Linked DNA regions of Homo sapiens. The protein of the gene in region 2 purifies or fractionates together with the protein of the main gene of each other region. This does not show direct contact. Each region holds a gene or a part of one and is shown on either strand. Other genes may lie near its edges.

The links.
Region 1: the proteins of CAPNS2 (region 2) and CAST purify together in Homo sapiens (affinity purification with mass spectrometry; 4 studies listed by BioGRID and IntAct, with this or other methods). This does not show direct contact.

The regions. Positions count from the first base shown.
Region 1 is NC_000005.10:96,735,213-96,739,043, forward strand, and holds part of CAST (calpastatin), read left to right. Parts: intron 1-959; coding exon 960-1,028; intron 1,029-2,636; coding exon 2,637-2,735; intron 2,736-3,831.
Region 2 is NC_000016.10:55,564,961-55,568,187, forward strand, and holds CAPNS2 (calpain small subunit 2), read left to right. Parts: upstream 1-1,723; 5' UTR 1,724-1,796; coding exon 1,797-2,543; 3' UTR 2,544-2,727; downstream 2,728-3,227. UniProt on the Homo sapiens protein: Calcium-regulated non-lysosomal thiol-protease which catalyzes limited proteolysis of substrates involved in cytoskeletal remodeling and signal transduction.

The sequences.
Region 1 (3,831 bases), on a different chromosome or scaffold from region 2:
GTATAGATTCACTTATCTAATATCTCCAAGGAGAAGTGACTTGCTAAAGCCTCAAGCAGCCATGCATGTCTCAACTGTTATGCAAACCTTGGCAGTCAGAGCCTGTGCTCTTCCTGTGCTTTGTTCCCTGAGTTTGGATACCTTCAAATGGGAAATGGTCCCCTTTTATCTTAAACCCAACAACTTCACCCATTTAGTTTCTGCCAGTCTCTGAAAGCATTTGCCTCTGGCCATAGAGAATGATTTTGGATAAGACCACCAGCACAGGGCAGAAATGTGCAGAGTGTATACAGTGGGGACCAAAGTAAAAGAGATGCCAGAGGTAATGGAGAACAAAGGGCATAGATGCCACAATAGGATCAGAATGGTGCCGAAAGGTGGCAATGGGGAGGGAGAGATGCTCCAAGGGTCAAATTTCAGAGATTACATCTGGATAAAAGCATGGAAACTGCAGATTGAAAAGTTGTTTGCAGTCTTTGATAGAGCAATGGAAGCAATGATGAGCGATCAACTCATTTTAAGGAAAGAGGAGGTGTTGAGATGCCGAAGTGAGGGATATGGAAGTCTTGATGTGTGGGGGCAAAGAGCCAGAGAGCAAAGCCAGAAGTGGCAGCCTATAGAAAGAATTCATGGATGTTGTAAAAACTGGCTGTGGGCCCTGGAGAAGAACAGCGAGGAAAGAAACAGTCTTGGATTCAAATCTTCATTCTGTCCCTTACTGTGTAACCTGAGGAAAGTGGCCTAATCTGAGCCTTGCTTTGCCCATCACTAAATGAGACTAATATAATTAAAGCCCTTCTGAAAAAGGATATAAAACACACAGCACAGTTTCTGCTGTAGAGCGGATGTTCAGTGTATGATCAATGCTTGTTAATATAATGAATTTATTTTAAAATTTGTAATAGTATTGAGTTTTATTAAGGTATGTGAGGAGTTGTTAATTTCTCAATTCTCACCAGAAAAAAGAAAAGAAATCATTAACCCCAGCTGTGCCAGTTGAATCTAAACCGGATAAACCATCGGGAAAGGTATGAAGACAACAGTGTCCTTCTACATGAGACAGTTACTCATATGCTCTGTATTTATCATAATCTGATTTCTTGTGGGCAAATAATATGAGGGGGGTAATTTAAAGGACCATTTTAATGAATTATTGTTTCAAGCTAATATTGAAAGTGTGGGTTGGAAGTATGGTTTTCACACTCATGTTTGTAACACTTGCTATTATAACCCCTTTTTTAAAAAAAAACAAACAAACTCCAGTTTCATCCCATGGAGTTTACATTCCAGTTTCTCTCCTGCAAATACACTTTATTTAACCAGAGGTATTACTAAAGAAGTAAGGTACTTCTTTTTTTCTGAAATTCCTAAAAGAATCAGTGTAAGCCTAACAGCCTTCAGATTGTATTTCACATATCCATGATCAGGAGAGTCCTAAAATTGTCATGGGAATATGGTAGTTGCAAAAAAAAAAGACAATTTAAATAATTATTTTTCATCTAAATCAAATAATACAAGGTCCTTTCCTAGATTGTTGTTTTCTCCTTTCAATGCAGGTTATTGTTCATAACGAGTCATCAACATAAAAAATAGATAGAAGCACTCTTATTTATTATTATATTAGTCCATGTTTACACTGTTATAAAGAACTTCCCTGAGACTGGGTAATTTATAAAGAAAAGAGGTTTAATTGACTCACATTTCTGTGTGGCTGGGGAGGCCTCAGGAAACTTACAATCATGCTGGAAAGGGAATCAGACACTTTCTTCACAAGGCAGCAGGAGAGAGAGCATGTGAAGGAGGAACAGTCAAACACTTATAAAACCATCCAATCTCATGAGAACTCACTCACTATCATGAGAACAGCATGAAAATCGCCCCAATGATCCAGTCACCTCCCTTCCTCGACACGTGGGGATTATAGGTCCCTCCCTTGACACATGGGGATTACAATTGGAGTTGAGACTTGGGTGGAGACATGAGCCAAACCATATCAGTTATACTGATTTAAGCCCATATTGGCAGAGTAAACTTGTGAGTTCTTGTAAGTTTAATGTCTCAGGTAATTTCTGTTTTGTAAACCTCTTCAGGCAAGCAAGTGAACAACAACAAAAAAAAACATGAATGAAATAATACAGAGTGATTTCCCTCATGAAATAGATTCTATTTGGAATAGGTACTATATAGAGATTTTTAGGGGTTCTTTGTTTAAAACTCTGGAAAAGTATTGATAAGCAATAAATACCAAGCATTTCCCTTATCGCTTAGAGCAACATGGTTATAATTCCCTGTATTTTGTTTTGTTTTGTTTTGTTTTTCCTTTTTTAACTGTCAGTGCATCGGACTGGCAGCTTTAATGAACTTGTACATTTGTTCATGTATGTAATGCCTGTAGACTTGTTGAAACTGTGCTTCTTGCCTGAATGTGGCTTTTCATCTTTCCAACCTAGAATTTGTACTTTGAGACTTAAATAGTAAAGTCTGTTAAAGACCAGATTTTAACTATTTTGGGGAACTATTTGAAGAACTTTTGGTGTTTGGTGGTTTTTCTACACAGAATGGCTTTTTTTGTAGTTAAACTAAAGGTGAAATATGTATAACAAATAACATTTAAATATCTGTTCTTTCTTTTCCAGTCAGGCATGGATGCTGCTTTGGATGACTTAATAGATACTTTAGGAGGACCTGAAGAAACTGAAGAAGAAAATACAACGTATACTGGACCAGAAGTTTCAGTATGTGATCATGATATCTGTAAAAATTCATACTCAGTGGGTAGGAGAGCAAATAAGGCCATGGTCATGAAGTACAAAAGAATACCTAGTGAGGCCAGGCGCAGTGGCTCACATCTGTAATCCCAGCACTTTGGGAGGCCGAGGCAGGCAGATTTCTTGAAGTCAGGCATTCAAGACCAGCCTGGCCAACATGGTGAAACCCTGTCCTTACTAAAAATACAAAAATTAGCTGGGCATGGTGGTACACGCCTGTAATCCCAGCTACTTGGGAAGCTGAGGCAGGAGAATCACTTGAACCCAGGAGGCAGAGGTTGCAGCGAGCTGAGATCGCACCACTGCACTCCAGTTTGGGCGACAGAGCGAGACTCCATCTCAAAAAAAAGAGTATCTAGTGTTCTGTCATTTGCATAGAAACAGGATGATGTCAGTATCAACATCAACACAGCAACTAAAAATTAGTATCGGGGATGGAAATTGTCTTTTGGCAGCTGCATTATAACATTGAGTTAGCAAACATTTGTTGTTGTGCTAAGATTGACACTGGGACACGGTCCACTGGGTCACACACTTATTTTCCATCCTCAAGATTTAAGTATAATGGACTAGAACTTGTTTTGATTTCTCGATATTTACCACCCTCAGTTTATCCCTATTCCTAATTCCTAAAATTATATTTTCCTTGGTATTAAAAAAAAGACATGCCAGCCAGGCATGGTGGCTCACACCTGTAATCCCAGCACTTTGGGAGGCCGAGGCAGGCGGATCATCTGAGGTCAGGAGTTCAAGACCAGCCTAGCCAACATGGTGAAACCCTGTCTCTACTAAAAATACAAAAAAATTAGTCAGGAATGTTGGCGCATGGCTGTAATCCCAGCTACTCAGGAGGCTGAGGCAGGAGAACTGCTTGAACCCGGGAGGCAGTGGTTGCAGTTAGCTGGGATCATGCCATTGCACTCCAGCCTGGGCAACATGGATGAGACTCCATCTCAAAAAAAAAAAAAAAAAGACACGCCATAGGCTAGACAAAAATATTTGCAACAGACATAACAAAGGGTTTGTTTCTAGAATTTATAAAGAATAAAAAACAGAAAAAGAC
Region 2 (3,227 bases):
CTAGAATATTTAAAGAACTCCTGCAACTCAACAACAAGAAACCCAACAAATAACCAGATTTTAAAATGGCCAAAAGATTTAAATAGACATTTTTCCAAAGATCTTCTTTGGTCAGTAAGTATTAATACATTAAAAGATGCTCAACATCATTAATCATTAGGGTAATGCAAATCAAAACTACAATGTTATACCACTTTACAGCCATTAGGATGGCTATTATTAGAAAACAAAACAAAAGAGAAAATAACAAGTGTTTGCAAGCATATGGAGTAATTGGAACTCTTGTGTATTGCTGGTGGGGATGTAAGTGGTACAGTCAATAAGGAAAAGCGTATGGTAGTTCCTTAAAAAGATAAAAATAGAATTATCATATGATTCAGCAATTCCACTTCTTGGTATATACCCAAAAGAATTGAAAGCAAAGACTCAAACAAATATTTGTATACCCATGTTCATAGCAGCATTATTCCCAATAGCCAAAAGGGCAACCCAAGTATTCACCAATGGGATAATGGAAAAACAAAATGAGTATATTAATGCAATACAATATTATTCATCATTAGAAAGGAAGGGAATTCTGACACATGATACAACATGGATGAATCTTGAAGAAATTATGCTCATTGAAATAAGCAAGTCACAAAAGAACAAATACTGTATGATTCCACTTATATAAGGCATGCAGAGTAGTCAAATCATAGAGCTAGAAAATAGAGAGATGGTTACCAGGGGTGGGGGAAGGGGAGAATGGGAGTTATTCTTTAATGGGTACAGTTTCAGTTTTGCCAGATGAAAAAAGTTCTGAAGATAGCTGGTGGTGATGGTTTCACAATGCAAATATACTTAATGCCACTGAACTCTATACTTAAAAATGGTTAAAATAGTATATTTTATGGCATGTGTATTTTATCACAATTTTAAAACATTTAACATTTTTATAATGAAAAAGGAATAAATGAAAGAGTCTGTACTGTCTGATTTAATTTATTTAAGGTGCAAAAATAAATCTATGGTGTTAGATGTCAGGACAGTGGTTATCCTTGGAAGACGGAAGTAACTAGAAAGAAGTATGAAGAGGCCTCTGAGATGTGTGCAGTCTGTGAAATTCTTTGAGCTATCCATTTGTGATTTATATGATACATTTTTTACATGAATGTTACATTTCAAAAAAGATTTTAGCAATGTCGATCACAGACACCACAGCAGCCCTATGGAATCAGAATCTCTGGGAGTGGAAATTCAGGACCTTGCATTTTAAAAATCTCCCTTCTAAATTTTTCTTAAGACTACTGGATTTTGAGAATCTTTGCTAAAGGAAGAGGATTAAATATTCTTCCAATGCCCAAGATTTCTTCAATTCTATTCTAACAATAAATATTTCTTAGAGAATAAATTTTTGATTTCCTTGCATCATTTACCTTTTTCCTGTTAGGAAAATGCACATCATTTTTTAGGTGCTGAGACAGAGGACTAAGAAATCAATGACATAAAAATGCATACTTTAATATTTTTTCTTTAAAACTATTATCCTAAGGTGTCCTACATACTATAATTTATAAGTATCTGGAAGAGTGAAAACAATTTTATTGAGGCCTTGTAAAATATGGCAGGTGCTAGGACCTCATGGAACTCAGGTATCTTCAGTAGGATGTGAAACATCACATCATGGGGCGTGGTGCAGTGTAAGCAGGTAAAGAAAAGCCAGTTCTTCCACATGTAAACTACTTGAACTCCATTTCATCTTTTTTCATACCATCTCTAAGATTGCTGCCGCATTTGCTTGTTAAACTGAAAGCATGTTTCTTGCAAAGGCTCTATTGGAAGGAGCAGATCGAGGTCTTGGAGAAGCTCTTGGAGGCCTCTTTGGAGGAGGTGGTCAGAGAAGAGAAGGAGGAGGAAGAAATATTGGAGGGATAGTTGGAGGAATTGTGAATTTTATCAGTGAGGCTGCAGCAGCTCAGTATACTCCAGAACCGCCTCCCACTCAGCAGCATTTCACCAGTGTGGAGGCCTCAGAAAGTGAGGAAGTTAGGCGATTTCGGCAACAATTTACACAGCTGGCTGGACCAGACATGGAGGTGGGTGCCACTGATCTGATGAATATTCTCAACAAAGTCCTTTCTAAGCACAAAGATCTTAAGACTGACGGTTTTAGTCTTGACACCTGCCGGAGCATTGTGTCTGTCATGGACAGTGACACGACTGGTAAGCTGGGCTTTGAAGAATTTAAGTATCTGTGGAACAACATCAAGAAATGGCAGTGTGTTTATAAGCAGTATGACAGGGACCATTCTGGGTCTCTGGGAAGTTCTCAGCTGCGGGGAGCTCTGCAGGCCGCAGGCTTCCAGCTAAATGAACAACTTTACCAAATGATTGTCCGCCGGTATGCTAATGAAGATGGAGATATGGATTTTAACAATTTCATCAGCTGCTTGGTCCGCCTGGATGCCATGTTTCGTGCCTTCAAGTCTCTGGATAGAGATAGAGATGGCCTGATTCAAGTGTCTATCAAAGAATGGCTGCAGTTGACCATGTATTCCTGAAGTGGGAACTGAGAAGTCAAGATCCTCCCTGGAGGACAGGACTGAAAACCTTGCCAAGCTGTACACAGTTGCTGATACCCTGTGCAACAGCTCTCATTTCCTGGCAAGCTCTTTCACAACCCTACATATTTCTGATCATGTGCTGCCTTTTACTGCTGAATTAAAACAGATATTTCACGAAAAATGTTCTGAGTGGTTTGTATATCAGCTTTTTGAGATTTGGATTTATATGGACTTGCATATATATGGTGGGGAGGTTGTGGGGTAGAGTTCTAATGGAGTAGATTTTAAAAGGTGTTGCTTATTTAGTGAATAAATTCCAAGGAGTAGGAACTTTATTATTGTTGTTATTGTTGTTAAGAATGAATTTTTTTAATCCTAGAATAAATCAAGAAAGCCCTCAGGAGATACATTTTCCATTTTAAAAAGTTGAGGAGAGAGGTTCAAAATCTGTTTTTCTTGTAATTTTATACCTGGTTTTCCCATTATGTAAAAAAATGAAAAGTGCTTTTTAGGAAACTTATTTAACCATAAAGAAACAGGTTCAGACAATGAAATTAAGCAGTTTTATATAAGGGTAGCATTTTTTTAAATGATGGAGCTACTATCTAAAATTCTAAAGTTCTTTAATTCTGTTTCTTTAGTAAAAAAAAGCACTAGCAATTTTGTTTTGATACATTTGTA